Homo sapiens: one gene and its partners. The protein of the gene in region 6 purifies or fractionates together with the protein of the main gene of each other region. This does not show direct contact. Each region holds a gene or a part of one and is shown on either strand. Other genes may lie near its edges.

Region 1 (4,477 bases), on a different chromosome or scaffold from region 6:
TCCTCCTGCCTCAGCCTGCCAAAGTGCTGGGATTACAGGCATGAGCCACTGCACCCAGACTCACTATAACTATTTAAGAGATATAATGCACTATGGACAAAGCAGGGGGAAGGAGGGACTGACATTCAGACCAGCTATGTGCAAGGCATCATGTACATGCAACATGCAGTCCACAAAATGTAATACAGTGAATAATGACATTGAGAGTTAAAAACTAGTGCTGAAATAATATTTGAGCAGGAACTCCAAGTTACTTACTCTTCACAGTGGGTTTCCTAGGATCATAGGAAACAGTGCTGCTGACCACTGGTGCCAAGTGGGCACTGCTGGTGCTTGGGCCATCATAGGCCGGCTCCTCAGGGCTGGGGTTAAAGCTGATGCTACTGGCGGAAGCATGGCTGCTTCCCATGGGGTACGGGGCTGGCTTGATCCTGCAACACAGGACAACACTGGTTAGGCATGAGCACAAGAAATCTGCCCTGAGCATGAACAGCCTGAAGCTGGCCTGTGTGAGGATGACTCACCCTGTTTGTGGCTTTGACCAATGGACCCTATCACCCTGGATTCTGGTGGTGGCTCAGAGATGTCTCCATTATCCTTTCAGAAAAAATGATAATCTCAACTAACTTTTCACTGTTTTGGTATAAATCTGTATTTTGAAAAGGCTAATGTGGCTTAGACAAAATAACAATCATTGCAGAAATGTGTTTTTTGTTTAGATGGGAAAAGGGAAAGCATAAGGGAATGTTTCCCATAAGCCAGGCTTTGCTCTCCATTTAATCTTGACTACCCTAGGGCAGGGGTAATTATCACCTTGCACTGCAGTCCAAGAAGCGGAGGCTGAGGGAGGTGAGGGAAGTGCTGAGCTGATGAGGTCTGCCTCCAGAGCCCACAGTCTGCACTGCCTCACTTTCACCAAAAGCAATTTGCTTCCTGCCGCTATGGCTACCTCTAAGGGTTGATAGCACACAAAAGCCAGGTAAGAACACAGATCTTACTTGATTTTCTCAGGGACAGCTGCTCCTCCCGTTCCAAACTTTTCCTGCCTCCTCCGGACGTCACGAGGTGGCTTGGCCACAGAGTTGACAAAGGCCATCTTTGCTTGTCGGCCTGTGGAATTATGGAGATGAACATCTGCCTTCTTGAGCAGAGATGCTACTGTTATTTAAATAATCCACGGGCTTTTTGAGTGCCCTGAAACCCCACTTGTAGGGTAGAATGGGCGGTGGCAGAAGAAATACCCACCCTGCTACCTGATGTAGGGGCAAGCAGTCCTACACCAGCCAAGCCCACCAACACCCTGCTATTGACCAGAACACTCATCCTGCCAGTTCTCCCCCAGCTCTCCCGTCTCTGTTACCTTTGGGCTTATTGGCATGTGCGAACTGGATATTCTTTGTTAGTACTCGTAGCCGCTGCTCTCGGGCGTCCTGAAGCCGCAGGTACATCTCTCGCCACGACTCATACTCTTCGGGTCTTTCTTCCTTAAAGTCTCGGTGACAATGAACTTTCCATAATTGATCTGTTTCTTCAATTAATACCTGAAACCAGAACCAGGACATCATTTGTGTACAAGCACTTTTCCATATTTTTTTTTTTTTTTTGAGACAGAGTCTTGCTCTGTCGTGTAGACTGCAGTGCAGTGGTGCAATTTTGGTTCACTGCAACCCTTGCCTCCTGGGTTCAAGCGATTCTCACGCCTCAGCCTCTCAAGTAGCCAGGACTACAGGTGCTTACCACCACGCCCAGCTATTTTATATTTTCAGTAGAGATGGGGTTTTGCCATGTTGTCCAGGCTGGTCTCGAACTCCTGACCTCAGATAATCCGCCCACCTTGGCCTCCCAGAGTGCTGGGATTACAGGCGTGTGTCACCATGCCCAGCCTCATATCTTTTTCTGATTATTTAATTACCTAGGAGTGACCAGTTTCCCAAAAATTTTTTGGTCTTCATCTTAGTAGTATGTTAAAATACCACAATTCTAGGAAAAAAATAACTCCCTAAATTTTAAAAATGCGAAGTGTGAGGCACTATGCTAGTTGCTTTTGGTGGCTGTGACAGAATATCACAAAAATCTGTGTAACATCAGTCTTTTCCTTTAGAAAATCAGCAAAGGGTAGAACTGCGATCAAGTCAAATCAGGTACTTCCCAACACTACGCTGAACTGTGATGGCAAAGGGGCAACCTAAGAAGGATGTTAAGTTATTGGCCAGGCGCGTTGGCTCATGCCTGTAATCCCAGCACTTCAGGAGGCCAAGAGTCTGAGAGTCCATCTCTCTAAAAAATAAAAATATTAGCCAGCTGTGGTGGTATGTGCCTGTAGTCCCAGCTACTTGGGAGGATCACTTAAGCCCAGGAGTTCAAGGATGCAGTAAGCCATGATTAGGCCTCTGTACTGCAGTCGAAGCAACAGAGGTAGACCCTATCTCCAAAAAAAAAAAAAAAGGTGTTAGGTCATAGAACTTTCAGAATTAAAGAGAGACAGCTGATGCAATCAAATGTGTATACCCTACATCCTAAGGAGGATTCTGGATAAATCTTGATGTTTCTTAAGAGACATCCAGCCAATCACCAGATGTCAGAGTGTCAACACAAAGTGCTTTCCCCGCCCTGGGTCCCAGCTACTCTGCTGCCAGAATTCTCCCTTTACCTTCATGACTAGGCAAGCTCAAGGGAGATGTTAAGTGTTTTTCTTCTCCCTTTGAATCCCACCCTGATCCTAGCCCAAGAGGCCCACTTAAGGTGCCAGGAGCAAGTGCTAATAACATGCTTGTTTAAAGGCCCAGTGGCAAACCAAATATATCCAGAACAATGCTCTGACCACTGATCTGCCCTTCAGCCACAGCGGAGTCACAGGGACAAAGCTATTTCTGGAGGTACAAGCCAGAAAACTGCCCTCTTCCCACCCAAACAGAATACTCACATGATTGTATTCCTCTATGCGATACAGCTGATCAGGTGTACACCTCTCCAAAACGGGTTCAAGAACAGAGTATGGGACTCCTCCCACTTCAAAGATTGCTGCAGAGAAACCAAAGGTGAAGACACTGAGTAGCAGCCAAGCCACCCAGTGATAAGGTCCAAGTGCTACAATGTGCTTGAGAGCTAGAGAGAAGCGTGTGACTTACAATCGATGTTGTTTTTAAGTACTCGGATGCATTGCTGGTGCAAGGTCATCATTTTAGGGAGATAGGCACACTTGGAACCAGAATACACCTGCATCTTGGAATTCATTCTGCGCCCAGTAAATCCAGCTTCTTCTTCTTCCTGGGGTGAAGAGAACGCTATAGGGCAAGAAAAACACAAAAGGCCCTAAGTGATCCAGTGAAAACTCTCCTTCTACCCCCTTCAGCCTCCTACTTCCCTTTCCCAATGGCAATCCACGCTACAGATTTTTGTAGATCCTTCCAGAGAATTTAAAAATAAGCTCCTGTAATCCCAGCACTTTAGGAGGCCAAGGCACATGAATCATCTGAGGTCAAGAGTTCGAGATCAGCCTGCCCAACATGCACCTGTAGTCCCAGCTACTCAGGAGGCTGAGGCAGAGGAATTGCTTGAACCTAGGAGGTGGAGGCTGCAGTGAGCCAAGATGGAGCTACTGCACTCCAGCCTGAGTAACACAGCAAGACTCTCAACAGCAACAACAAAAAAAAGCAAATGTATCTTATTCCTTTTAAGCCAATGAATCAATTAATAACATACTCACTACATACATTGCTTTTTTTCATTTGCCACATCTGAGAGATCATTCCATGTCAGTGCATAGACTTTCCACATTTTTTTTTTACTGTGGCATAGGATGCCACTGTGTAGATGAACCATGATTTATCTGTTAGTCTCCTGCTGATAGACCCTTATGTGGCTTCTACTTCTTTTGCTATGAAAATTAGACATTTTTTTCTTTCAGACAAAAATCCTATGTAACACATAGGATAAAGGGCTGCTAATAACAGCAGCAGCAATTTACTGAACAATTACTATGTGATAAACCCAGAGCAAAAAGGCATCACTTCTGAATTCATTAAACTGAGCCCTATGGGGCAGATACCATTATAACTCCCATTTACACAATATATACAACTAAGGTCCAAAGAAATTAAGATATTTCTCAAGGTCATATAACTTGCAGAAACCAGAGTTGGGATTCAAACCCAAGCCATCAAACTTCAGAGTCTATGCACTTAGGAAATGCATCAAAAATCTGATGTTATGGTGATAGTTTTTTTGTTTGTTTTTGAAACAGTCTTGCTCTGTCACCCAAGCTAGAGTGCAGTGATGCAATCAGAGCTCACTGCAGCCTTGAACTCCTGGGCTCAAGTGATACTCCCACCTCAGCCTACCGAGTACCTGGGATGTGCCACCATGCCTGGCTACTTTTTTTCTCTTGTAGAGACAGCATCTTGCTGTGTTGACCAGGGTGGTTTAGAACTCCTTTTTTTTGAAATAGAGTTTCCCTCTTGTCACCCAGGCTTGAGTG
Region 2 (4,477 bases), on a different chromosome or scaffold from region 6:
CATGCCATTCAAGGGAAAAGTCCAGATTGGAGATACAAATCTGAGTCGTCATAAAGTTATTTGATAGACTGGATGAGATCCCCAGAGGAGTGAGTGTAGACAGAGAAGACGTCTGAGGAATGGAGCCCCGGGCCTGCTGACATTTGGAGGTCAGGGAGATAATGAGGAAGCAGCAGCAAAGGCTGAGAAGGGATGGTCAGTGCGGAGGAAAACCAGGGGTTCTCTGAAAGCCAAAGGAAGAGAGTATTTTAAAGAGGAGGGAATGATCGGCTGGGACAGACGGATGCAGGCAGGTCATGTGGGCTGAGGACTGGGAACTGACCTTGGGATTTCGCAAGGCAGAGGTCAGTGGTGACCTTGACAAGAGCAGTCTGTGGAATGCGAGAGGCAAAAGGATGGAAGTGGGTTTGAAGGAAAATGGGAGGAGAGGATCTGGAGACAGCAACCATGACCACCTAATTCGGGATGTGCTGCATTGGAAAGCAGGGAAAATCTGGAGGTAAATGAAGGGGGATATGGGGTCAAGAGAGAGTTTTAGGATGAAATGACATTTTATCTGTGTATGCTGATGGGGATGATCCTGTAGACAGGGAAAACTGATGGCACAGGAGAGAGAGGGCAGAATTGCCAAAGGTCTTGAGTGGTGAGAAGGGATGGGATTAGTTTCTAGTAGACAGAAACATGAACAAATCATTCGTAAGAACGGAAGGGAAGGCATCGTATATGAGTACAGATGTAGGCAGGTGGGTAGAGGGACTGCTGGGTGCTTGTTTTCCTTCACACAAATTCCAGCATGCCAACCTCTTCCTTAAGAACACAAAACCCTCCAGTGGTGAGACCGGCTACCTCCTACCATCTTACACTCTACTTCTACTAAAGTGGCCTAAGATTACATTAGCTCTTTTGGCAGCCACATATATCCTACTGGTGGTGGCTCCAAATAGCTATCAAGCCAGTTTTCTCCTGCCCCATACTGCTGAATATATTATGAATCTAACTGCAGGATTTTATATAATAATTTCTGACTGCCTGTAATTATCTCTATCCGAGTCTACAGTAGCTCAACAAGTCTAAACAAATAAAACTAAACAAATATTCTTTTATCATTGCTTTTTCTAATTTTTAATTTTTTTATTTTTTTGAGATGGAGTTTCACTCTTGTTTGCCGGGGCTGGAGTGCAGTGGCGCGATCTCAGCTCACTGCAACCTCTGCCTCCTGGGTTCAAGAGATTCTCCTGCCTTAGCCTCTGGGCATGCCACCCAGGCGCATGCCACCACGCCCAGCTAATTTTTGTATTTTTGTATTTTTGTATTTTTAATAGAGACAGGGTTTCATCACGTTGGCCAGACTGGTCTCGAACTCTTGACCTCAGGTCATCTGCCCACCTCAGCCTCCCAAAGTGCTGGGATTACAGGCATGAGCCAACGCACCCAGCCTTAGAAGGGACATCTTTCTTTCCTGTCCCCATTACCAAAATCTATGCATCTCTACTGTTATATACCTCAATATAATTAAAAAAAAAAATCTGTCCAGGTGCGGTGGCTCACACCTGTAATCCCAGCACTTTGAGAGGCTGAGGCGGGCAGATCACCTAAGGTTGGGAGTTCGAGACCAGTCTGACCAACACGGAGAAACCCCATCTCTACTAAAAATACAAAACTAGCCGGGCGTGGACGCACATGCCTGTAATCCCAGCTACTCGGGAGGCTGAGGCAGGAGAATCGCTTGAACCCGGGAGGTGGAGGTTACAGTGAGCCGAGATCATGCCATTGCACTCCAGCCTGGGCAACAAGAGCGAAACTCCATCTCAAAAAATAACAATAATAATAAATCTATGCATCTTGTGGACTAGGAGGCTATAACCCTCATTCTGCTGGAAAGAGGGTAGACCAGTACAGCCATTTTAAAGGGCAATCTGACAGTACTTAGTATAAACATATTAACTAAGTATAAATACAATAAGCATATGTAGATAGAGATATAATATCCTACAACCAGCAACTCTGCTCTTGGGAATATAACCCAAAGAAATTTTTCCACATTGCATAAAGGGACACATATGAGAATGTACACTGGATTATTAATTACGGCGAGGGAAGGCTGGTGACAGGTAACCTTGGTGTCTATCACTAAGAGAGGAATGTCACCAGGGCAAACCGAGTAGCAGTCAGTTCCCACAGACTAGATGTACACACAGCAACAGGGAGAAACCCTAAAATGCACCACTCATCATGATGCTGAGTGGGAAAAGAAACAGAACAATGCAGACAATGATACCATTTACTTAAAATACACACACACTATGCAACTCATAGAAAAAGAAACATACATAAATTACAAAGAACTGTGGTGGCAGGTATGGGAATGAGATAAATGGGAATTAACAAATTAATTAAATAACAGCAGAGCTCTCACAGCAATGACACTGAGGAGTAAGAACTAAAGAGTATGAGTGACTCAACTGTTTGTACTGAGGTAAAAACCTTCATAGGGTCTCACTCTGTTGCCCACGCTAGAGTGCAGTGGCATGACCATAGCTCACCACTACCTCAAATTCCTGGGCTCAAGCCATCCTCCTGCCTCAGTCTCCTGAGTAGCTGTGACTACTGGCATGTACCACCATGCTTGGCTAATTTTTAAATTTTTTGTAGAAATGGGGTCTCACTACATTGCCCAAGCTGGTCTCAAACTCCTCGGTTCAAGTGATCCTCCTGCCTTGACCTTCCAAAGTGCTGGGGTTATAGGTGTGAGCCACTAAGTGTTTAGCCCATTATTCTTTATTTTAAAAATTTTTTTGTTAATAGCTTTATAGAGATATAATTCACATTCCATACAATCTATCCATTTTAAGTGCATAATAGTTTTTAGTATATTCACAGAATTGTGCAACCATCACCACGATCAATTTTAGATCATTTTCATCACCCTAAAAAGAAACTCTGTTACTTACCAATTCCACCTGCCCTCACTCCCAACAAAAAAATCCTGCCTCAGCCTCCCGAGTAGCTGGGATTACAGGCGCGCACCAGCACACCCAACTAATTTTTTGTATTTTTAGTAGAGACGGTTTCACACCACGTTGGCCAGGCTGGTCTCGAACTCCTGACCTCAAGTGATCTGCCCGCTTCAGCCTCCCAAAGTGCTGGGATTACATGTGTGAGCCACCACGCCTGGCCTATTACTGGGTTTTTAGTCCCAAATTCATGTATGTTGGGATCACTTTGAATTTAGATTCTGTTATCCAATACATTAGTTTTATGTCATGTGCAAATTAGATAAACCTCTGTTCTCTATCTTTACCCAAGTCACTAATAGGCTGAATGACGGGGCACAATGGTTCCCCTATGTAATCTCAGCATTTTGGGAGGCCAAGGCAGGCAGATTGCTTGAGCCCAGGAGTTCAACACCAGCCTGAGCAACATAGTGAAACCTTGTCTCTATTTAAATATATTTTAAGTTGAAAAGGACAAGACCAAACACAGATGCCTAGGACATGTCACAAGAGCTCTGCTGGTGACCCATTAATCAAAAATCTTTGTGTCCCACTGTTCAACCAGCTGTGACCTCCTCTAATTGTATTATGATGCAGCCCATGTTCTTTTCACTAGGACATCATGAGTTACAGAGGTTAACTGGGGAAGAAGAGTGAATGGAATGAGAACAAAGGAAACCTTTCTATCAACATGGTTTGAATGAGAATGTATTCATGAATTACCTATATAATTAAAGAAAAACACACTGTAAAACCTTTTTTTTTTTTTTTTTTTTTTTTGAGATGGAGTCTCGCTGTGTCACCCAGGCTGGAGAGCAGTGGCTCGATCTCAGCTCACTGCAACGTCTACCTCCCGGGTTCAAGCAATTCTCCTGCCTCAGCCTCCTGAGTAGCTGGGATTACAGGCATGTACCACCACACCCAGCTAATTTTTGTATTTTAGTAGAGACGGGGTTTCACCATGTTGGCCAGGCTGGTCTCAAACTCCTGGGCTCAAGCGCCTCAGCCTCCCAAAATGCTGGAATTACAGGCGTAAGCCACCACACCTGACTGTAAACCTTATTTTCAAAAAGAAAAAAAAATGCTGGTTTATAAGACATCAATAAAAAACTTCAAATGTCTTGCCCAAATCAAGATACATCATGTCCACAGCATGCCCCTGACCTGTGGCTCAACCTAGTAATCCTATCAAGAGAAAATTATTTTTATAAAACTCATGCTAGCTTCCTAAGTACTCAACAGTCATTTTTTTTTTTTTTTGTTTGAGACCGAGTCTCACTCTTGTTGCCCAGGCTGGAGTACAGTGGCACAATCTTGGCTCACTGCAACCTCCGCCTCCCGTGTTCAAGTGATTTTCCTGCCTCGGCCTTCCAAGCAGCTGGGACTACAGGCACGCGCCAACAAGCCTGGCTAATATTTGTATTTTTAGTAGAGACGGGGTTTCACCGTATTGGTCAGGTTAGTCTTGAACTCCTGACCGTGTG
Region 3 (4,477 bases), on a different chromosome or scaffold from region 6:
TAGGACCATGCCCTCTCTCACCCCTAGCCTCCAGATCACCAAGCTTTAGAAGGGATTTGGATGCAGCAACTGTTTTTTACTTTTGTTTTGAGATGGGTCTCATTCTGTTGCCCAGGCTGGATTCAGTGGCACAATCACAGCTCACTGCAGCCTCAACCTCCCAGGCTCAAGTGATCCTCCCACTTCAGCTTCTCAAGTTGCTGGGACCACAAGCGTGGGCCACCATGCCTGGCTAAGTTTTTATTTTTTGTAAAGACAGGTTCTCCCCAAGGCTGGTCTCAAACTCCTGGGCTCAAGTGATCCTCCCACCTCAGCCTCCCAAAGTGCTGAGATTACAGATGTGAGCCACTGTACCCAGCCCCAAAAATAGTTTTCTACTTCACTTAGAAAAATCAATTTAGGCCGGGCACGGTGGCTCATGCCTGTTAATCCCAGCACTTTGGGAGGCCAAAGCGGGCAGATCACCTGAGGTCGGGAGTTCGAGACCAGCCTGACCAACATGGAGAAACCCCATCTCTACTAAAAATACAAAATTAGCCGGGCATGGTGGCACATGCCTGTAATCCCAGCTACTAGGGAGGCTGAGGCAGGAGAATCGTTTGAACCTGGGAGGCGGAGGTTGCGGTGAGCTGAGATCGCGTCATTGCACTCCAGCCTGGGCAACAAGAGCCAAACTCCGTCTCAAAAAAAAAAAAAAAAGAAAAAGAAAAGAAAAATCAATTTATTGGATCTGTTCAACTTCACTAAAATGTAAATTATTCTCTCAAAGCCCAGGGGACACAGTTTAGAAAATCTTACGTATAAATGGGGCCAGACGTGGTGGCTCACGCCTGTAATCCCAGCCCTTTGGGAGGCTGAGGTGGGCAGATCACTAGAGTTCAGGAGTTTGAGACCAGCCTGGTACACATGGCGAAATCCTGTCTTTACTAAAAATACAAAAATTAGCTGGGTATGGTGGCAGGCACCTGTAATCCCAGCTACTTAGGAGGCTGAGGCACAAGAATTGCTTGAACCTAGGAGGTGAAGGTTGCAGTGAGCTGAGACCACGCCACTGCACTCCAGCCAGGGCAACAGAGCCAGACTGCCTCCAAAAAAAAAAAGAAAAAAGAAAAAAGAAAATCTTAGGTATAAATGGAGTCAAAATTACAAAGAAAATAAGTTCATTTGTCCTACCTTTTACAGTAGGGGAAGGGTTTTTTTTTACACACATATAATTAAACATACTGAAGCAAACACTTTCTTCTTCTAAGCAATGACCCCCTAAATTAAAAACGTAAAGTCTCATAAATTCCACGTAAGAGCAGTCTGAGTCTCTGCGGGTTAGGGTGAGAGCGTTAGAAACCGCACACCATTCACCGCTTCATCGGCTCACCTTGAGGTCTGAGAACTGCTGTTGGATTTTGGGGCGTTCCATACGATATTTCTCTATTTCTTCTTTCTCCCTTTGCTCCCTAGGAAATAAAACATGCACACATCAGAAACACTGCATGTCTGTTCTGAAGCAAATTTATTATCCATCTCAATTAAATCACCAAAAAGAACAATTCCATACTCTTAGTAGCTAAATCAAATATATATATATATATATACATATACACACACACACACACACACACACACACACACACACATTTTTTTTTTTGAGATGGAGTCTTGCTCTGTCACCCAGGCTAAAGTGCAGTGGCGCAATCTCAGCTCACTGCAACCTCCACCTCCTGGGTTTAAGTGATTTTCCTGCCTCAGCCTCCCAAGTAGCTGGGATTACAGGTGCTCGCCACCACTCCCAGCTAATTTTTGTGTTTTTAGTAGAGACGGGGTTTCACCATCCTGGCCAGGCTGTTCTCGAACTCCTGACCTTGTGATCTACCCACCTTGGCCTCCCAAAGTGCTGGGATTACAGGTGTGAGCCACCGCACCCAGCCCAAATCAAATATATTTTAAGGTAACTATGAATACATTCTTAGCTGGGCATGGTAGCACACACCTGTAATCACAGCTACTTGGGAGGCTGAGGCAGAATCATTTGAACCCAGGAGGCAGAGGGTGCAGTGAGCCAAGATCGCACCACTGCACTCCAGCCTGGGCAACACAGAGAGACTCTGCCTCTAAATAAATAAATATAAATACATTCGTAAGTCTACTAATTCAATTATCCACCAAATAAAAACATGTAGAAATTCATTAAAATAAAAAAAAAAGATCTTACTTTGATCTAAATACCTCCATTTGGACATGTGTATATTTACTGCTTGAAAATTCACAAAATCCCAAAGGTAGGACCATCCCATAAACACCTAAGAAGGCCAGGCGTGGTGGCTTACACCTGTAATCCCAACGCTTTGGGAGGCCGAGGTGGGCAGATCACCTGAGGTCAGGAGTTCAAGCCTGGCCAATGTGGTAAAACCCCATCTATACTAAAAATATGAAAATTAGCCAGGCGTGGTGGCGCATGCCTGTTATCCCAGCTACTCAGGAGGCTGAGGTAGGAGAATTGCTTGAACCTGGGAGGTGGAAGTTGCAGGGAGCCAAGATCATGCCATTGCACTCCAGCCTGGGTGACAAGAGTGAAACTTCGTCTCAAAAAAATAAAAATAAAAATAAAAATTAGCTGGGCATGGTGGTGGGCACCTGTAATCCCCAGCTACCTGGGAGACTGAGGCAGGAGAATCATCTGAATCCAGGAAGTGGAGGTTGCAGTGAGCCAATCTAGCCTGGGCGACAGAGCGAGACCTTGTCGCAAAACAAAACAAAACAAAACAAAACAAAAAAACACCTACAAGGAAAAACAGTAACTATCCTAGTTACCACCAAACACTCCAAACACTCTACTGAACTCATCCCACCTTTCCTTCCTTGCTTCCTTCTCTTCCAAGTAAATAGTTCACCTCTAACCAACTCAGCTCAGCTGCACAGCTCTATGTGCCAGAACATAACCCATGTAATTGCACTTCGGTGTTGAGACTACATGTGAGGATATGGTATTCACAGTACTGTTCTTCCTACTTGTTTGTATTACGACAGTTTTCAGAATAAAAAGTTTTAATAAGTACACTACTTTTTTTTTTTTCTTTGAGACAGTCTCACTCTGTCACCAGGCTGGAATGCAGTGGTGCGATCTCAGCTCACTGCAACCTCCGCCTCCTGGGTTTAAGTGATTCTCGTGCCTCAGCCTCCTGAGTAGCTGGGATTACAGGCATGCACCACCACACCCAGCTAATTTTTGTATTGTTAGTAGAGACGGGGTTTCACCATGTTGGCCAGGATGGTCTCGATCTCCTGACCTCATGATCTGCCCGCCTCGGCCTCCCAAAGTGCTGGGATTATAGGTGTGAGCCACCGTGCTCGGCCAAGTACACTACTTTTTAAAAACATTTAATTTAATGGCTTTCTTCATGGGTCCGTGTCACCTGCTGTTTTTTGTTTTGTTTTTGTTTTAGAGACACGGCCTTGGTCTGTTGCCCAGGCTGGAGCACAGTGGCATAAGCATAGCTCACTGTAGCCTCTAATTCCTAGGCTCAAGCGATGCTCCTGCCTCAGCCTTGGGAATGTAGCTGGAACTACGGGCATGTGCAACTGGCTAATTTTAATTTTGTTTTTGTAGAGACAGGGTTTCACCATGTTGCCCAGGCTGGTCTCGAACTCCTAGACTCAAGTGGTCCTCCTGCCTTGGCCTCCCAAGGTACTAGGATTACACATGTAAGCCACTGCACCCAGCCTGATGTTTTTTAAAATGCATTAACCCTGGAGGTTCCAATCAATTTTTAAAATGTAGGGCTGAGTGTAGTAACTCATGCCTGTAATCCTAGCACTTTGGGAGGCCAAGGTTAGGGGAGGCAGGTGGATCACTTGAGGCCAGGAGTTCAAGACCAGCCTGGGCAACATAGACAAAAATTAGCTGGGTGTGAGCCTGGCGTGGTGGCTCAAGCCTGTAATCCCAGCACCTTGGGAGGCCAAGGCAGGCAGATCACAAGGGCAGGAGTTCAAGACCAGCCTGGCTAACATTGGTGAAACCCCGTCTCTACTAAAAATACCCATCTCTACAAAAATCAGCCGGGCGTGGCGGTGCATGCCTGTAATCCCAGCCACTTGGGAGGCTGAGGCAGGAGAATCACTTGAACCCTGGAGGCGGAGGTTGCAGTAAGCCGAGGTTGCGCCATTGCACTCCAGCCTGGGCAATAGAGTGAGACTCCATCTCAAAAAAAAAAAAAGAAAAAAGAAAAATTAGCTGGGTGTGGTAGCACGTGCTTGTAATCCCAGCTACCTGGGAGGCTGAAGCAGGAGAATCGCTTGAGCCAGGAATTGAAGGTTACAGGGAGCTATAATCAAGCCACCGCGCTCCACCCTGGGTGACAGAGTAAGATCCTGTATCCAAAAAAAAAAAAAAGTGAAATGCAATGCCATTCACGTTTAATTACTATAGGTATAAAATTTATGCACAATGATTTAATAACGAGCTTCTAAAAAGATGTCCAGGCCA
Region 4 (4,477 bases), on a different chromosome or scaffold from region 6:
CTGCAGTGAGCTATGATCACACCACTGCACTCCAGCCCCAGGGCCACAGTGAGACCCTGTCTCAAAAAAAAAAAAAAAAAAAGGAACTGAAGTGAAGTCAGAATATCTTCTTTTCAGGCCTTAGAGAAAGATCGTTATGAGCATAGTCCCAAATCTGGATTTCTCTGAAGCCAGGTCCTCCCTTGGCTTACCATTCTGTCTTCCACTGATAACTTGAGGCACGTAGCCATTAACTGGACTGCCCAGCTGTTCCTGGCCTAGGGAGGAGCCAGAACCCCCAACCAATAGTAATGAGGATGGTGATGCGAGCCTTGGGTCCTCCCTAACTTGGCTACTGTGTTACAGAAGCAATATCCAAGGCAGTGTCATCTGCAACAATGCTGTGATCGAGAAGGGTGCAGACATCAAGGACTGCTTGATTGGAAGTGGCCAGAGGATTGAAGCCAAAGGTAAACCAGATTACAATCACAGATTCCATTTTTACTTCTCACACCAGCACTGATAATGCCAAAGGCTGGTGAGGATGTGGGAAACAAGCACATACGTACACTGCGGGCGAGAACATAAATTGATAAAGCCATCTTTGGAGAGCAGTTGACATCACTGTCAATTTTTTTTTTTTTTTCGGAGTTTCACTCTTGTTGCCCAGGCTGGTGTGCAATGGTGCAATCTCAGCTCACTGAAACCTCCGCCTCCCGGGTTCAAGCGATTCTTCTGCCTCAGTCTCCTGAGTCGCTGGAATTACAGGCATGTGCCACCACGCCCAGCTAATTTTTTGTATTTTTAGTAGAGATGGCGTTTCTCCATGTTGGTCAGGCTGGTTGCGAACTCCCGACCTCAGGAGAACTGCCCACCTCAGCCTCCCAAAGTGCTGGGATTACAGGCGTAAGCCACCGCACCTGGCATCACTGTCAAATTTTTTTACTTTGACTTAACAGTTTCATTTCTAGAAATTAATCTTATAGATAAGCTTATACATGTATGCACCCTTAATCTCAAAACCTTGAAAACATATCAATAGATCTAATGGCCCAGGTTGGCACCAATACTGTACAGTGATTCTTGAAGCCTAGGCACAGTGGTTCATGCCAATAATCCCAACACTTTGGGAGGCTGAAATGTGAGGATCGCTTGAGCCTAGACAACATAGCAGGAACCCATCTCTACAAAAAAATTAAAAATTAGCCAGGCACAGTGGCACACACGTGTTGTCCCAGCTACTCAAGAGGCTGAGGCAGGAGGATTGCTTGAGCCTGAGAGGTCAAGGCTGCAGTGAGCTGAGATCGCACCACTGCACTCTAGCCTGGGTGACAGAGGGAGACCCTGTCTTAAAAATAATAATAAAAATTAAAATGACTGATTGCTTTTGGTATTATTCCTAAACCTAAAATAAGGTGGGGAGGGGAGTTGCTGAAGGAATTAACCCCACCAACTCTGTAGACGCCACATCATTTCCTTCTTCAGTTTCTTCCCCCTTCCCTTTTTTAAAGTCATATGCCTTCCTTTTGGGCTTTAGAATCAAACAGACCTCAGTTCACATCTCAACTCAACTTAGTGGCTGTGCACCAAGTGAAATTTTTAATCATTAAGCCCTCAGATTTTCCTTTTTTTTTTTTTTTTTTTTAATTTTAATTTTTTGAGACAGAGTCTTGCTCTGTCGCCTAGGCTGGAGTACAGTAGTGCTATCTCAGCTCACTGCAGCCTCCTCCTCCTGGATCCAGGTGGTTCTTGTGCCTCAGCCTCCCGGGCAGCTGAGACTACAGGGGCACACCACCACCCTTGGCTAATTTTTGTGTTTTTAGTAGAGACAGGGTTTTGCAATGTCACCCAGGCTGGTCTTGAACTCCTGGCCTCAAGCAAGCCACCCACCTCACTTTCCCAAAGTGCTGAGATTACAGGTATGAGCCACTGCGCCCAGCCCCAGATTTTCTTAATTAGACAATTGGGACAATAATAGCTACCTTGGAGAATTGTGAGAATTACATATAATTAAATGACAGGTATATGCACTACTCCTTGAGTGTACCAAAAGACTTAGAATTCCTCATACATACCGTGCCATTATACCTCTCCATGCTTTTACATGTGCTCTCTCTAGATTTCCTCTCTTGAAGACTCCGACCAAGTGTTTTCTCCTTTGTAGAACCTTCTCTGCCTCTTCCCATGACTCCCCATAGCAGAACTACACATTCCTTCCACTGTGTCCTTGAGCTTTGCCACACCTTTATTAAAGTATGTTTCACAAGCCATGGCAATTATCCGTGAATCAGCCTTCCCTACTAAGATCCTCAAGGTCAGCTGGGCATGATGGCTCACACCTGTAATCCTAGCACTTTGGGAGGCCGAAGTGGGCGGATCACCTGAGGTCAGGAGTTCGAAACCAGCCTGACCAACATGGTGAAACCCCGTCTCTACTAAAAATACAAAAAATAGCCAAGTGTGGTAGTGCATGCCTGTAATCCCAGCTACCTGGGAGGTTGAGGCAGGAGAATTGCTGGAACCCAGGAGGCGGAGGCTGCAGTGAGCTGAGACTGCACCACTACACTCCAGTCTGGGTGACAGAGCAAGACTCCATCTCAAAAAAAAAAAAAAGATCCTCAAGGTCGATTGTCTCATAACTATATGCATCCCTAGCTCTCAGAACAGGTCCTGATTTATGGTAAATGCTCAGAAGGGGAAAAGAGTGAATGAATGAATGTTGGATCCATGAAACATATTTTGGGGGATTTCAGGGTATAAAGTTAGGGTTCCAAGAAAGGCCTCTGTGCGATGGTTGCAATCATCATGAGATGGGCTTCATAAACTCCTGGGCTTTCTGGCTTTAATTAACACTATGTGTCCACCTTTTAGCAAGGAGACCCTTTAATGGTCCTGCTGAAGGAGGGCTGGCCAGGGAAGTCATCTTGTCTGGGCTCTAAACTGGACAACCCCACCACTTCCTTCTCTCTGTCCTCTGCTGGAAGGACCAGTGCATCCAGCACAGTGGTCAGTGCCCTCCTGCCACAGGAACTCCCTGGCCAGTTGCCTTTTTCCACTATTACTTCTTCTTTTTTTTTTTTTTTTGAGACTGAGCCGTATGGTGAAAGCAAACTCCTAACCATCAGTGCAGCACTCAAGACTTGTTACTATAGGTGACCTAGGCAAACACCAACAACTCACATCCTTACCAGCAAAGAGCTCAATAGATGGCAAAGTCTTCCGTCAGTCTTCCTCACATGAAGGGGTTTCAGGAAAAAACATTCATCCTAAGAAATAATGCAGTCTCAGCCGGATGCGGTGGCTCATGCCTGTAATCCCAGCACTTTGGGAGGCTGAGGCGGGTGGATCCCTGTGGTCAAGAGTTCGAGACCAGCCTGACCAACATGGAGAAACCCCATCTCTACTAAAAATACAAAAAATTAGCCGGGCGTGGTAGTGCATGCCTGTAATCCCAGCTACTTGGAAGGCTGAGGCAGAAGAATTGCCTGAACCTGGAAGGCAGAGGTTGTGGTGAGCTGAGATCACGCCATCACACTCCATCTTGGGCAACAAGAGCGAAACTCCATCTCAAAAAAAAAAAAAAAGACATAATGCAGTCTCCTCTCCAAATTCTAATCATTTTCATGCTCCAGAGTCACCACATCCATAGCAGTCTTTTTCCCCAAAAGTATGGCTCGTAACTCAGTGTAGGCCTCCCTACCCTCTTCTAGCACCAACACGAAAACAAGCCATTTTATAACAACTCTGACTTTTCTCACCCCATCCCAATACTCTCATTGGTTATCTCTGGCAAAAATACTGGCAGCCAAATTTGACCTTCTCAAGCAGTAGAATGGCTACAGCTAACAGTCAAAACCTAAAAAATGGCTGGGTACAGAGGCTGTAGCTCACGCCTGTAATCCCAGCACTTTGGGAGACCAAGGCGAGTGGATCACTTGAGGTCAAGAGTTCGAGACCAGCCCAGCCAACATGGTGAAACCTCATCTCTACTAAAAATACAAAAATTAGCTGTGTGTGATGGCACACACCTGTAATCCCAGCTACTTGGGAGGCTGAGGCAGGAGAATCACTTGAACCTGGGAGGCGGAGGTTGCAGTGAGCAGAGATCATACCACTGCACTCCAGCCTGGGCAACAGAGCAAGACTCCATTCAGAAAAAAAAAAAACAAAAAAAAAAAACACTAACTGCTAAAAGCATGCTTCATCTGAGTCTCTTCTTACAGTCAGTGACAGAACTTGGATCTCTTCCCTATGGCCAGAGTGATCAGTTCTTTGACCATGAAAGTAGACCTGGTATAGGTCAGGCTGTTGATGTATACTTGACACAGGTCAAATCCTCCTGGCCAGCAGGAAGCTTTCCCAGTTTCCCAACAGTGCACCTTTTATTTGTGATGTTTTTCCCTTCTATCCCATTGCTATTTTCCCAACTTATCATCCTCCCTTGTATTTTTCCCCTTGGGATCTTTCCCAACCTGATTCCAGCCCAAAGATTTTCCAG
Region 5 (4,477 bases), on a different chromosome or scaffold from region 6:
CAGATGAAACATAGATGTGATTGGTCCTTAGGTGCAGGTTGGCAGCAGAGATGGCCCTAAAAACAGGCAGGGAGTGTCAGCATCGCTCAGCCCAGCACCTTAGGTAGTGCAGCCGGCCTTTCCATCCCCACCCTCTTGCCCGACAGTACCTGACCCTCCACTCAGTCTTGGATGAGAAAGTCTGGGTCTCATAGTTGCTGGTGGTGGAGGTGATGATCTCATCGCCATGCTTGTTGACAGTGCGAGTCTGTGTTGCCGTCAGCTGCGATTGTTCCTTGGTCTGCTTCTCGATCTCAGCGATCTGCTGCCGCTGCTGTGACGGTGCCGAGATCTCCATACCCAGGATGATGTCTCGAATTTCTGATTGTGTCAGTGATGCCACGTTCACACTGTGGGGATGGTGTGGGTTATATTACAAGGATCCCTTCCCCTTGGTCACTTCTGCCTCAATGGAAAGGGTGTAACTTGGTAGGACAGGACAGCCTATACTCACGCCCCAGACAATCCACAAGAGCTGCTTCTACAGGAAGTGTGAAACGGAGGTGCACTAACACTTCCAAGATTCGTCAGATCCAAGCGGGACAGCACACTGCGTGTGCACCTTCCCACTGTTTAGCATCCATAAACCCTACGCTTCCTTGACCAAAACAATGCTCTGGCATGGAACTGTTCTCAGAAATGGAAACCCCAGAAACCCTAGAATACTGGTTCTTAATCAGAGGTGGTATTGTCCGTCACCCTATGGATAATTTTGGTTGCCACGATGACAGGGAGGGAGACGAGGGGAGGAAGGTGTGTGTGTGTGTTGGCAGCAGTCTCGGATACTTAGGGTCTCGGATGTTCAAAATTCTTCCCATGTATGGACAGTAAAGAAATGCCCTGTTTGAAATGGCAACAGTGAGAAACAATGGCCAAGAGTCAGACTGAAGCCCTAAAACAGGGATGCTTCCCATACTATTCGAAGACACTGCTGTATCTCTCTTCCTCGAGACTCTGTAAGATAATTTCTTTCCTTGTTTTCAAGACAAGAGTCTCGCTCTGTTACCCAGGCTGGAGTACAGTGGCATCATCATGGCTCACTGCAGCCTCAAACCCCCGGGCTCAAGCAAGCCTCCTGCCTCAGCCTCCAAGAAGCTGGGACTACAAGCGTGTACCACCACACCTGTTTTAAATTTTTTTTTTTTGGTAGAGATGGCGTCAGTCTCTTGTTGATCAGGCTGGTTTCAACTCCTGGCTCATGCAATCCTCCCACCTTGGCCTCCCAAAGTGCTGGTATTACTAGCATGAGCACTCAAGCCTGGCTAAGACAAGATAATTTCTTGAGAAACGTCTTTTTTTTTTTTTTTTTTGGAGACAGTCTCACTCTTGTCGCCCAGGCTGGAGTGCAGTGGCATGATCTCGGCTCACTGCAACCTCTGCCCCCAGGTTCAAGCAATTCTCCTGCCTCAGCCTCCCGAGTAGCTGGGATTACAGGTAGGCGCCATCGCACCCGGCTAACTTTTGTATTTTTAGTAGAGACGGAGTTTCACCACGTTGGCCAGGATGGTTTCAAACTCCTGACCTCAAATGATCTACCCACCTTGGCCTCCCAAAGTGCTGGGATTACAGGCATGAGCCACCGCGCCTGGCCTTCTTGAGAAACTTCTAAGCCTAAGTGCTTCCAAAAAACCCCAGAAAACCGTATATAGACCTCCTGTCTGTGTCCCCACCAGCACTGCTCACTTGTTTTTCTTGCCGTAGTCAGCCAAGATCAGATCCTTGAGCTGCACCTCGACCTTGATCCATTCTTCGTCAGTCAGAGTGGGCCAGATGTGGTGTGGTTCTGTAATAGTAGTCTTGTCTGGCTTCAGGATCACTTTTGCCCGATCGTTGTTCACATGTAGGGCACGCAGAATCAGGATGAGACGGGAGAAGGCCTGGGAAAAGATTTGGAAGAGTGGGGTAGGTCAGCTGCTTGAGGCTCTCCCACTTTAATCCTAACCTTTCATGAAACCCAAGAATTTTTTTTTTTTCTTTTGAGACAGAGTCTTGCTCTGTCGCCCAGGCTGGAGTGCAGTGGCATGATCTCGGCTCACTGCAAGCTCCGCCTCCCAGGTTCATACCATTCTCCTGCCTCAGCCTCCCGAATAGCTGGGATGACAGGCACCTGCCACCACGCCCGGCTAATTTTTTGTATTTTTAGTAGAGATGGGGTTTCACTGTGTTAGCCAGGATGGTCTCAATCTCCTGACCTCGTGATCCGCCGCCTCGGCCTCCCAAAGTGCTGGGATTACAGGCGTGAGCCACTGCGCCCGGCCTTTTTTTTTTTTTTTTTAGACAGTCTTACTCTGTCGCCCAGGCTGGAGTGCAATGGTGCCATCTCGGCTCACTGCAACCTCTGCCTCCTGGGTTCCAGTGATTCTGGTGCCTCAGCCTCCCGAGTAGCTGGGACTACAGGTGCATCCCAGCACACTCGGCTAATTTTGTTGTATTTTTAGTAGAGATGGGGTCTCGTCATGTTGGCCAGCCTGATCTCAAACTCCTGACCTCAGGTGATTCACCCAACTCAGCCTCCCAAAGTGCTGGGATTACGGGCGTGAGCCACCACGCCCGGCCCCAAGAGTTGATTTTTAACTTTAAGGTCTTAAACTCTCATGAAAGTCAACAGAGTTCCCACCCAATCTATAGGCTAAAAATGTGAAAATGGCAAAAACCTGACACAGGATCTTCTCCTAACCCTAAACCCGCTCCTCCTCCAGCGATCTTCTCTTCCCGAGGTTCATACCGTGTAAGATGAAATAGTCTTGAGCCAGTCGTCATAGAGGTTGAAGAGAACCATCTGGGGCTCAGTGGCTTTAAGGATGAGATCCCCGAATTTTTCCACCTTGAGACACGCCTGGAAAGGGAGTTGGAGCTCCGATCCTTTGATGACAATATTGGGGAAGTCCAGTAAGTGCACCTAAGACAAGATCAAGTCCAAGATGAGAAACAGCCTGAAGGTCTCAAGGTCTCTTTTCTCCTACCCCACCCCACCCTCTTACCTCCAGTGGGTCCAGCATGCCCTTCCTGGTGACAATGATCTGCTTGGGCTGCTCCTCCACAGGCAGAGATCGGATCAGGGCGGCCACCTCCTCAGCTGTCTTCCACTTAGCCAACTTAAAAGCAAGAGAGAAGAAAATGGAAATTTAGTCTCTACCCTCCCAGATCAACTAGAACAGAATATCCTAGTTTTGAAATAATCCAACTACGTTTCTATTGAACACTGATGTTAAATGTTAGGCACTTAGAAGGTACAAAGAGTATCAAATGGCCGTGTCCAATGACCAGGCTGACAGCCCCTTTCAACAAGACAATACCACAAGCTGACACATGAGTATGTGCTAAACTATACACTGTTTTACAGAGTTCAGGAACAAAAGAAATTAAGGCTACTAGGATCAGAAAAAAGCTGCACAAAAAAACGTGTCTTAAGGAGGGACTGTGATTAACAGAGCAAAGAGGGGAGTTCATTCTAGAAAGAAAAATACAAGCAAAACACAGATTTGGAGATGAGCATCAGGGGTTTGGGCTACTAAGATCCTGGACTGAATGTAAGATGAAACATGCTATAAATGTAAAGGAAGAGAAACTGGCTGGACAGATACAGCCCAGCCAGATGTTGAACGTCTAGGAAGCTAAAGAAGAGTTAATTCAGCAAGAGTTGTGAGGTAGAGAAGAGATTTGGTCAAAGTGGATGTTTCAAGAATATGCGTTGCTGGGCCGGGCACGGTGGCTCAAGCCTGTAATCCCAGCACTTTGAGAGGCCAAGGCGGGCGGATCACGAGGTCAGGAGATTGAGACCATCCTGGCCAACATGGTGAAACCCCGTCTCTACTAAAAATACAAAAAATTTAGCCGGGCGTGGTGGCGGGCACCTGTAGTCCCAGCTACTCGGGAGGCTGAGGCAGGAGAATGGCGTGAACCTGGGAGGCGGAGCTTGCAGTGAGCTGAAATCAGGCCACTGCATTCCAGCCTGGGCAACAGAGCAAGACTCCGTCTCAAAAAAAAAAAAAAAAAAAGAGAATATGCATTGCTGGCCAGGAGCAGTGGCTCACACCTGTAATCCGAGCACTTTGGGAGGCAGAGGCAGAGGCAGGCAGATCACAAAGTCAGGAGATCGAGACCATCCTGGCTAACACGTTGAAACCCTGTCTCTACTAAAAAATACAAAAAAAATTAGCCAGGCGTGGTGGCGGGCGCCTGTAGTCCCAGCTACTCGGGAGGCTAAGGCAGGAGAATGGCGTGAACCCGGGAGGCGGAGCTTGCAGTGAACCGAGATTGAGCCACTGTGCTCCAGCCTGGGCCACACAGCGAGACTCCGGCTAAAAAAAAAAAAAAAAAAAAAGAGTATGCGTTGCCTTTGGAAAAATGATTTTTGATAGCCCTGTTCAAGGTTAGAAATTCAGGAAACAGACCAGCTGGAAGGGAACGAAGCACCTCATACACTCTTGGACCTCCC
Region 6 (3,720 bases):
GAACCCATATGCCCCGGCTCCAATGCCAGGCTCCACCCTGTCCCCCGCTGCATCCTGCCTCCATGGGTTCCCACATTGCTGAGCACTCCAGGCAGCCCCGAGGCCTTTGTTGCACTCACGCTCAGGCTCTGGCTTCTCCGTGTCACCTACTCTCAAGGGCCGGGCCTTGGGCTCTTCTTTGTTTCTCCGTATGGGCGCGTTGAGCTCCTCATGATAAACTGGACCCAAAGAGACCAGGGGACACGTTAGAACATGAGGTTCCTAGGGATCTCAGCCCAAATAGGGGAATGGGGGCAAGACTGCTCTCCGAGGGGCTTACATCTGTTGTGCTGCACATAATTCACAGCCATGTTGGTAGGCACGAAGGAGGTCTCGCTGTCTTTCTTCTTGTTCTGCTGCTCTGCCAGCAGACGGGCCTTGGCATCCTCCGTGGAAATGATATTTTTTATTTTAGCACTATGGAGAGAAAGAAACCACACCACTTAGAAGATGATAGCACCTTACTACTCAGACATGAGTGGTGAGGCTGGCAGCCCAGCAGTACATAAGAAAATCATGTGTCCTGGGGCACAGCTCTCCACTTTATCAAGCACACTTGTAGTCACATTCTCACGGGACTCTCACGGCTGTCGGAGAACCACAGTTACTCTGCTCTTCTGATCAAGAGCAAATTGAGCTTCAGAGAAGTAAAATGCTTAAGGCTCAAAGTTTGTAAAGGCCAGAAAAGAGCCCAGAAGCCTCCCAGCTTTCTACTGTACCAGAAGATTATTCTAACAATTGTACCTCTTCCATAACAATTCCCTTTTAAAGTGGATATTTTAAGAAGGATCATGGGGAGAAGGGGTGAGTGAGCCTTTAACATGGCTCCTGCTAGAAGAAAACAGAAGAATAAAGGGCCTGATACAGCTGAACAGCTGTAACACGCTAAAGAACCACTTTTGCTTCCAGCAGTCAGGGGCCCTTACTACTCTGATCAAGCCTTCAGCGAAACTTCTAGCAACAACCTGCCAGGGACAATCTCATTTGTATTTGTAGGATTCTAAGGACACAGATAAGAACATGGGGTCTCATTACATTGCCCAGGCTGGTCTTGAACTCCTGGGCTCAAGTGATCCTCCCACCTTGGCCTCCCAAAGAGCTAGGATAACAGGCACAAGTCACCATGTCTGGCCTTTTTTTTTTTTTTTTAAAGGGTCTTACTCTGTCACCCAGACTGGTGTGCAGTGGTGCAATCATGGCTCACTGTAGCCTCAACTCCTGAGCTCAAGTGACAGCCCAGCTAATTTTTTAAATTTTTTTGAGAGACAGGAGTCTGACTATATTTCTCAGGCTGATCTCCTGGCCTCACGTGATCCTCCTGCCTTGGCCTCCCAAGTACTGGGATTATAGGCTTATAGGCATCAGCCACCATACCTGTCCCCCATAAATTTTTTTTTCCTTTTTTTTTGAGATGGAGTCTTGCTCTGTCGCCAGACTGGAGTGCAGTGGCATGATCTCGCCTCACTGCAACCTCCACCTTCAGGGTTCAAGCAATTTCCTGCCTCAGCCTCCCAAGTAGCTGGACTACAGGTGCCTGCCACCATGCCCAGCTAATTTTTGTATTTTTAGTAGAGACGGGGTTCGACCATCTTGGCCGGGCTGGTCTTGAACTCCTGACCTCGTGATCCACCCGCCTCAGCCTCCCAAAGTGCTAGGATTACAGGCATGAGCCACCGTGCCTGGCCTGTCCCCCATAACTTTTAACTGGAAAGCACTGTGTCTTCTGCCTAGGGGTCTCAAACATACTCGATGCCCAGGTCCACCTCAGGAATGCCACTCAGCATCTGGTTGGAAAGCATCTCCTCGGTCTTCTTTGCTGAGGAAACACGGATGTTTTCTGGAAGTTCATAAAGACAGTCCTCTGCATTCTTTGGCTTAACTTTCTGTTCCTCATGTTCCACGATCCCTTTCCTCTTCTTTAGCTCTGTCTCAATGTACTTCATCCTGAAGTGAGAAACCCAGAGGCCTCAGGGAGGGGTGGGAAACACACACCAGGTGTCCTCTAAATCAGTGGTCCCCAACACTGGCCCGCAGACCAGTGACAGTCCATGGAGAAACGAGAAAAAAAATAACTTGAGTTTTTTCATCAAGTTAGAAATTTTCTAAAGAAGCACCAACCTATGAGGTTATGTCCCACTAATCTATTGGTGTTATGATGTACAAGGTTCTTTGAAGACAGAAAGATGATAGTTTGCCAATAGCTTTGTTGGCAAAATAAAAAGTGGGCAAGCCCATGTTTTATCCCTGCAATGTTTTGGGGAAATATTACTAGTCATGAAACCACCTTTGAAAACAAGTTTTTATTTTTTATATTTTGGAGACGGAGTTTCACTCTTGTTGCCCAGGCTGGAGTGCAATGGCGAGATCTTGGCTCGCCGCAAGCTCTGCCTCCCAGGTTCAAGCAATTCTCCTGCCTCAGCCTCCCGAGTAGCTGGGATTACAGGTGCCCACTACCACACCCAGCTAATTTTGTATTTTCAGTAGGGACGGGGTTTCTCCATGTTGGTCAGTCTGGTCTCGAACTCCCCACCTCAGATGATCCACCTGCCTCGGCCTCCCAAAGTGCTGGGACTACAGGTGAGAGCTACCGTGCCCGGCCTGAAAAGACCTTTTAAGAGGTTTTCAAAGTTCTTAAGCTGGGAAGTAGAAAGAGAGGGGCCAACTTTGACATCTTCTAGAAAATTCTAGAAATGTCATCTGTTGACTAAATATCTTGGACTCTGACTGGAGTCCAGCCCCAACTGCTCACAGCCAAACAGACTGACACTTACATGTCTGCATCCTCATCCCTTCGGTTGGTTTCTGCAGAAAACGATGTCCCCAGGTGCAGGTCCTCCTCCTCACTGATCCTGGAGGGAGAGAACAATGAGGCAGAGCTTTCAAGTCACAACTCAATGAGGCTGAGTTTTATGTTCTAAGAAGAAAACAAAGACATAAGCATTTATAATATCCTATTTACAGTTGGCAAAAAAAAAAAAATGCCGTAGTATATGTAAAGAAAAGAAACTCTAGAAATATATGCAAGCAAACTGTTGGCTGCTAGTGATACCTCCAAGGATTGAGTGGATACACTTATCCTTAGGTATCCATGGGGGATTGGTTCTAGTGTCCCTCAAGGATACCAAAATCTGCAGATAGTGAAGTCCCTTACATAAAATAGTATAATATCTGCATCTAACCTACACACACACTACCATCTGCTTTAAATCATCTCTAGATTACTTATAATACCAAATACAATGTAAATGCTATATAGTTGTCACAAAAGTACACAGTAAACTTTTATTTTTTTAATTTTTGAATTATTTGAATGTTTGATTTATTAATTTATTGAGACGGAGTCTCACTCTGTCACCCAGGCTGAAGTGCAGTGGCGCAATCTCAGCTCACTGCAACCTCTGCCTCCCGAGTTCAAGCAATTCTCCTGCCTCACCCTCCTGAGTAGCTGGGATTACGGGTGCCCACCACAATGCCCGGCTAACTTTTGTATTTTTAATAGCGACAGTGTTTCACCATGTTGGTCAGGCTGGTCTCGAACTCCTGACCTCAGGTAATCCGCCTGCCTCAGCCTCCTGAAGTGCTGGCATTACAGGCATGAGCCACCGCAGCTGGCCTGAATTTATTATTTTTGTTAATTGTTTTTATATGAAACTTCCCCATAGGTTCACTTATTTTATTTTT
Region 7 (4,477 bases), on a different chromosome or scaffold from region 6:
AATCATTGCTGGCAACAAAGCCTGGCAATTATAGAGCTCAGCTGCTGGTTGTGCTAACAATGGTCTGGACAGCCAGCAACACCGTGGCCCTCCTGTGTCTGTGCGACGCATCAACGTGCATCAGGAGGGAAGCAGCCACTGCCAGAGGCAAGTTAGCAGGCTAATGCCTCCTCACACTGCCTCACAACCCATAACCAGTACCTTTGGGGAAAATTTTCCCCACAGAGGAAGGACAAAGGGGTTTAATTTCTCTGTTATATGAAGAACCAGTAAAAGGACAGTTTTATAGCTCTTCTGAGTGGAACAGACCAGGCTCAAATCATGCGCTTGACTGACTCATTGCCATGGTTTACACAGGTCCTTCAACTGCCAGCTTTAAGTCAGATGCCTGCTCACAGGGACTCATCCAACAGTAGGTTGGCTTTAGAAAAGCGTTCTGTACCTCTGAGAAACAGGACCTCGATGAAGTCTTCACTGATGTCAATCAAGAATCCTTTCTGGGGGATTCACACTGTGTTCACTACACAAGGGCATAAGCACAGGCAGGAAACCAAGACTCAGGCCTGGGTACAAATCCTGACCTCCACCTGCCAGCTGTATGACTTCAAGTAAGTGATTTAACCATTCTCAAGTGTTCCCATTTGTAAAATGGGAATAATACCCCCATCTTACAAGGCTCCAAAGGGATTCAATGAGTGAACAGGGTCTCACTCTGTTGCCCAGGCTGGAGTGCAGTGGCACGATCATAATCATTGCTCACTATAGCCTCAAACTCCTGGGCTAAGTGATCCTCCTGTCTCAGCCTCCCAAGTGGCTAGGACTACAGGTGCACATGACCATACCTGGCCAATTTTTTAATTTTTGGAGAGACGGGGTCTCACTATATTGCCCAAGCTGGTCTTTAATTCCTGGGCTCAAGTGATCCTCCTGCCTTCACCTCCCAAAGTGTTGGGATTACAGTCATGAACCACCACGCCCAGCCCCAATATTTAACGAATGCTCGTCCCTTCTGTTACCCCGAGTGGGATTGGAAGGTTGGTGAAAGGCTGCCTTATATGGAGCAGGCCTCATGGGGGTATTACACACAGGGAGAAGAAAGAAGCTCATGGGAGGGAAAGTATGGAAACTGACAGTGGCAGCTTCTGCCTCTTCTATTCTTGAGAAAGTTACACAATGTGAGTGACAGAGGCTGTCCCAAGTACATAAAGGACTAATCTGTTTGCAAAGGGAGGAAATAGCATAGGATGAAGATTGTAAGTTGTTTGAAGCTTCTTTCCTAATTACCACTCATAATGAAAATTTAATTGCCAAGTTAAAAGCAAATTTCACTTTTTCTGTCATAGAATCTCTGCAGAAACTGGCACATTTTGTTTGAACAGGAAATCAAAGTTATTTTAATGCTTAAATGAGATCTAAGGAGCTGCAGATGTTTCACTGGGAATAACAAACTTCAAAATTCTGCTTTACTGGGTTGTAGCAATTCATGGCTACAGGGAGAAAGAAACGCTGTTTTAAGCTGAGTAAACCAAAGCAGTGGGAGGAATTCAAATCCAAGTACCCCAGTGTTAGGCACTCTGGGGACGAGGTGTAGGGAGAGGGTGGTACAGAGAGAAAATTTCTGGCATAGAGGCACTTACAATTGAGTAAGAGAGAGAAAAGCAGGAAATATCCCAAGACTAGGAAACTGAAATTTAAAAATTTTGGGGTCATGGAAGAATAGCGAGAAACAAAACACATACTGTTGCCTCAATTCTGACCCACATGTGCATCAGCTCAGTCAGAAAGACTGCTCACCTGTAAGGTGCTGGTGAGGAAGTTGTCTTGGGAGACAATGTCTACGAAGAAGTCAGCGGGGATCTCACCAAGCTGGTGGTACAGGATGGAGATGAGGTTGATGTAGAGGGTGTGGTGCTTCATCATGGCTGCTTCTGACCGGCACAGGAGGTTCAGGAGCCGCTTCCAATGCTCAAATGCCTCGTACACATTCCCCAGCAGGAAGCACACAAAAGCAAACTGGAGTTCACCTGAAAGGTGCAGAGAGGAGAAGTGATTCTGAGGGAGAGGAGGACCAGCTGACACTCTCCATCACTATTCACAAGGCCATGAATTCCACTGGACCTCAGCAACAGATGAGCTTTTATCCTTGTCACTCCTGCAGAGCCTGGCAGGAGATTTTGCACCTAACAGGTACTCAATAGATGTCTGCTGAACCGCTATGAATTCAAGCCATGGGAAACCAACCTGTGGCTTTGGATTTCTATAAAATCAGACTGCTAGAGAAGAGGTATTCCCAGTATTTGCCTGGCATTTTAAGTTTACAAAATGTGTTCATGGATATTATGCCAAGTGGATTTCAAACCTGGCTGCCCATCAGAATCACTGAGAGTCTGTTAAAAGTAAAGCTACCCAAGCTTCACCCTCAGAGGTTCTGGTGGAGGAGAGATGATGGGGCCTTCGTATCTGTAGCTCTAACAAGCTCCCCAGGTGATTCTAATGTGGATGGTCTGCTCCAGGGTCAGGAAATACTGCACTATACCATGTAACCCTCAGCCCAACTCCACAAGGCGATCAGGAAGATGGTATTTGCCTCATTTCATAGATAAGGTCAAGGGCTTGCCCAAGGCCACACATCTAATGCTTCACAATGTGGGCAACGGAAAGATAAAACAGATTCTCCATTGGGTGGGAACAGTTCTGGAACCTCCCACAAAAGAAAAATTCATGAGTACTTATTCCAGGGTCAGCCTGCCAGGCAGATTATTTTTGTTTGCTTAACCACAGGGCTCTGTGATTTAATCTCTATGAGCAGCTTGGTGGCTAAGAGCATGGGCTCTGGAGCCAAACTGCCTAGCTTCAAATCTTAGCTCTGCCACTTAGCAGCTGTGTGACCTTGGGCAAGTTACTCAATCTATTAAGGCCTCAATTTCCTTATTTGAGGGTTGTAGCAAAGATTACATGAATGGATATAGTACATGTATAGCATTTAGAATAAGACCTGGCACAAAGTAGCACTCAAAAAATATTATGTTCCCAATTTCTATCAGATGCCCATCTCAAACAGAGACCTGATGATCCAGACACCACTGTCCCTGGGCAAGTAACTGGGTCTCTGGTTACCACAGAATACTGCTCCTCATCACAGGCATTCTCTCTACTTCAAAGGTGGCTGGAAATTTAATGAGGTATACATACATGTGGGCCATAAAAAGAAGAGATGTACTCAACACCAAATACCTCTTTAAATGCATGGCGTTTGATCTGTGCCACCTCCAGAGACCTGGAAAAACTAGCTCCCTGTTCCTAAGCATACGGAACTAAGTTTGATTTGTGTGAATAGCTACCTGGTTTAGAAATTTTGGATTTCTGACCAATATTTTCAAATATAGTCAAATTTTCTTTGTATAATATAGGTTAATGATTTGCTTCTTCAGCTGGCTTTACTTGGTTTGTGAAACTAAATATTAGCCTATTATTTGCGTTTAGGACATTTATTAAATTTGTGCATTTCTGACTTTATCTAAAATTAAATTATATTTTTCAAAGAGGTGTGATGTAGATTCAAAATTATCCCTGGACAGGTGCGGTGGCAGGGATAGTCCTAGCCCTTTGAGAGGTCAGTGGAGGAGGATTGCTTGAGTTCAGGAGTTTGAGACAAGCTTGGGCAACACAGGGAGACCCTATCTCAACCAAAAATAATTAGCTGGGCGTGGTGGCACACACCTGAAGTCCCACCTACTTGGGAGGCTGAGGTGGGAGGCTCAGTTGAGCCCAGGAGGTTGAGGCTGCAGTGAGTTGTGATCATGCCACTGTACTCCAGCCCATGTCACAGAGTGAGACCTTGTCTCAAAAAAAAAAAAAAAAAAAAACCAACAAAGTTATTCCTGTAACAGACCTTTTCGCAAGATATATTTTGAAGAATTGAAATGTTTAAGAGGTAGAAAGACAGGATTTCTATTCATTTTTAAGCCAGACTTTTAAAAGTTACTTATTATACGAAAATACTAATGCATTAAGATGTACCTGTTAAAGGCTGGGTGCGGTGGCTCACGCCTGTAATTCCAGCACTTTGGGAGGCTGAGGCAGGTGGATCATGAGGTCAGGAGATCGAGACCATCCTGGCCAACATGGTGAAACCCTGTCTCTACTAAAAATACAAAACAAAATTAGCCGGGCGTGGTGGCGGGCGCCTGTAGTCCCAGCTACTCAGGAGGCTGAGGCAGGAGAATGGCGTGAACCCGGGAGGCGGAGCTTGCAGTGAGCCGAACTCACACCACTGCACTCCAGCCTGGGCGACAGAGCAAGACTCCGTCTCAACAACAACAACAACAACAACAACAACAACAACAACAACAACAAAAGATGTACCTGTTAAAATATAGGTTATATCATTAGCTGAGCCAATGATATAAAAAGTCCTGTCTAGGCACAGTAATCCCAGCACTTTGGGAAGCCGAGGCAGAAGGATCACTTGGGCCCG

Evidence for each region.
Region 1: the proteins of C9orf78 (region 6) and ELOA purify together in Homo sapiens (affinity purification with mass spectrometry, with the first as the bait; one large-scale study listed by BioGRID). This does not show direct contact.
Region 2: the proteins of C9orf78 (region 6) and EFTUD2 purify together in Homo sapiens (affinity purification with mass spectrometry; 3 studies listed by BioGRID and IntAct, with this or other methods). This does not show direct contact.
Region 3: the proteins of C9orf78 (region 6) and PRPF6 purify together in Homo sapiens (affinity purification with mass spectrometry; 2 studies listed by BioGRID and IntAct, with this or other methods). This does not show direct contact.
Region 4: the proteins of C9orf78 (region 6) and EIF2B3 purify together in Homo sapiens (affinity purification with mass spectrometry, with the first as the bait; one large-scale study listed by BioGRID). This does not show direct contact.
Region 5: the proteins of C9orf78 (region 6) and PRPF8 purify together in Homo sapiens (affinity purification with mass spectrometry; 4 studies listed by BioGRID and IntAct, with this or other methods). This does not show direct contact.
Region 7: the proteins of C9orf78 (region 6) and AAR2 purify together in Homo sapiens (affinity purification with mass spectrometry; 3 studies listed by BioGRID and IntAct, with this or other methods). This does not show direct contact.

Annotation. Positions count from the first base shown.
Region 1 is NC_000001.11:23,752,907-23,757,383, reverse strand, and holds part of ELOA (elongin-A), read right to left. Parts: intron 3,285-4,477; coding exon 3,129-3,284; intron 3,022-3,128; coding exon 2,924-3,021; intron 1,542-2,923; coding exon 1,361-1,541; intron 1,111-1,360; coding exon 999-1,110; intron 432-998; coding exon 259-431; intron 1-258. UniProt on the Homo sapiens protein: SIII, also known as elongin, is a general transcription elongation factor that increases the RNA polymerase II transcription elongation past template-encoded arresting sites.
Region 2 is NC_000017.11:44,888,883-44,893,359, forward strand, and holds part of EFTUD2 (116 kDa U5 small nuclear ribonucleoprotein component), read right to left. Parts: intron 1-4,477. UniProt on the Homo sapiens protein: Required for pre-mRNA splicing as component of the spliceosome, including pre-catalytic, catalytic and post-catalytic spliceosomal complexes. Component of the U5 snRNP and the U4/U6-U5 tri-snRNP complex, a building block of the spliceosome.
Region 3 is NC_000020.11:63,990,381-63,994,857, reverse strand, and holds part of PRPF6 (pre-mRNA-processing factor 6), read right to left. Parts: intron 1,452-4,477; coding exon 1,373-1,451; intron 1-1,372. UniProt on the Homo sapiens protein: Involved in pre-mRNA splicing as component of the U4/U6-U5 tri-snRNP complex, one of the building blocks of the spliceosome.
Region 4 is NC_000001.11:44,853,676-44,858,152, reverse strand, and holds part of EIF2B3 (translation initiation factor eIF2B subunit gamma), read left to right. Parts: intron 1-345; coding exon 346-449; intron 450-4,477. UniProt on the Homo sapiens protein: Acts as a component of the translation initiation factor 2B (eIF2B) complex, which catalyzes the exchange of GDP for GTP on the eukaryotic initiation factor 2 (eIF2) complex gamma subunit.
Region 5 is NC_000017.11:1,653,628-1,658,104, forward strand, and holds part of PRPF8 (pre-mRNA-processing-splicing factor 8), read right to left. Parts: intron 3,135-4,477; coding exon 3,021-3,134; intron 2,939-3,020; coding exon 2,765-2,938; intron 1,917-2,764; coding exon 1,723-1,916; intron 390-1,722; coding exon 150-389; intron 57-149; coding exon 1-56. UniProt on the Homo sapiens protein: Plays a role in pre-mRNA splicing as core component of precatalytic, catalytic and postcatalytic spliceosomal complexes, both of the predominant U2-type spliceosome and the minor U12-type spliceosome.
Region 6 is NC_000009.12:129,829,086-129,832,805, forward strand, and holds part of C9orf78 (splicing factor C9orf78), read right to left. Parts: intron 2,889-3,720; coding exon 2,811-2,888; intron 1,984-2,810; coding exon 1,786-1,983; intron 457-1,785; coding exon 320-456; intron 219-319; coding exon 120-218; intron 1-119. UniProt on the Homo sapiens protein: Plays a role in pre-mRNA splicing by promoting usage of the upstream 3'-splice site at alternative NAGNAG splice sites; these are sites featuring alternative acceptor motifs separated by only a few nucleotides. May also modulate exon inclusion events.
Region 7 is NC_000020.11:36,242,244-36,246,720, reverse strand, and holds part of AAR2 (protein AAR2 homolog), read right to left. Parts: intron 2,025-4,477; coding exon 1,795-2,024; intron 1-1,794. UniProt on the Homo sapiens protein: Component of the U5 snRNP complex that is required for spliceosome assembly and for pre-mRNA splicing.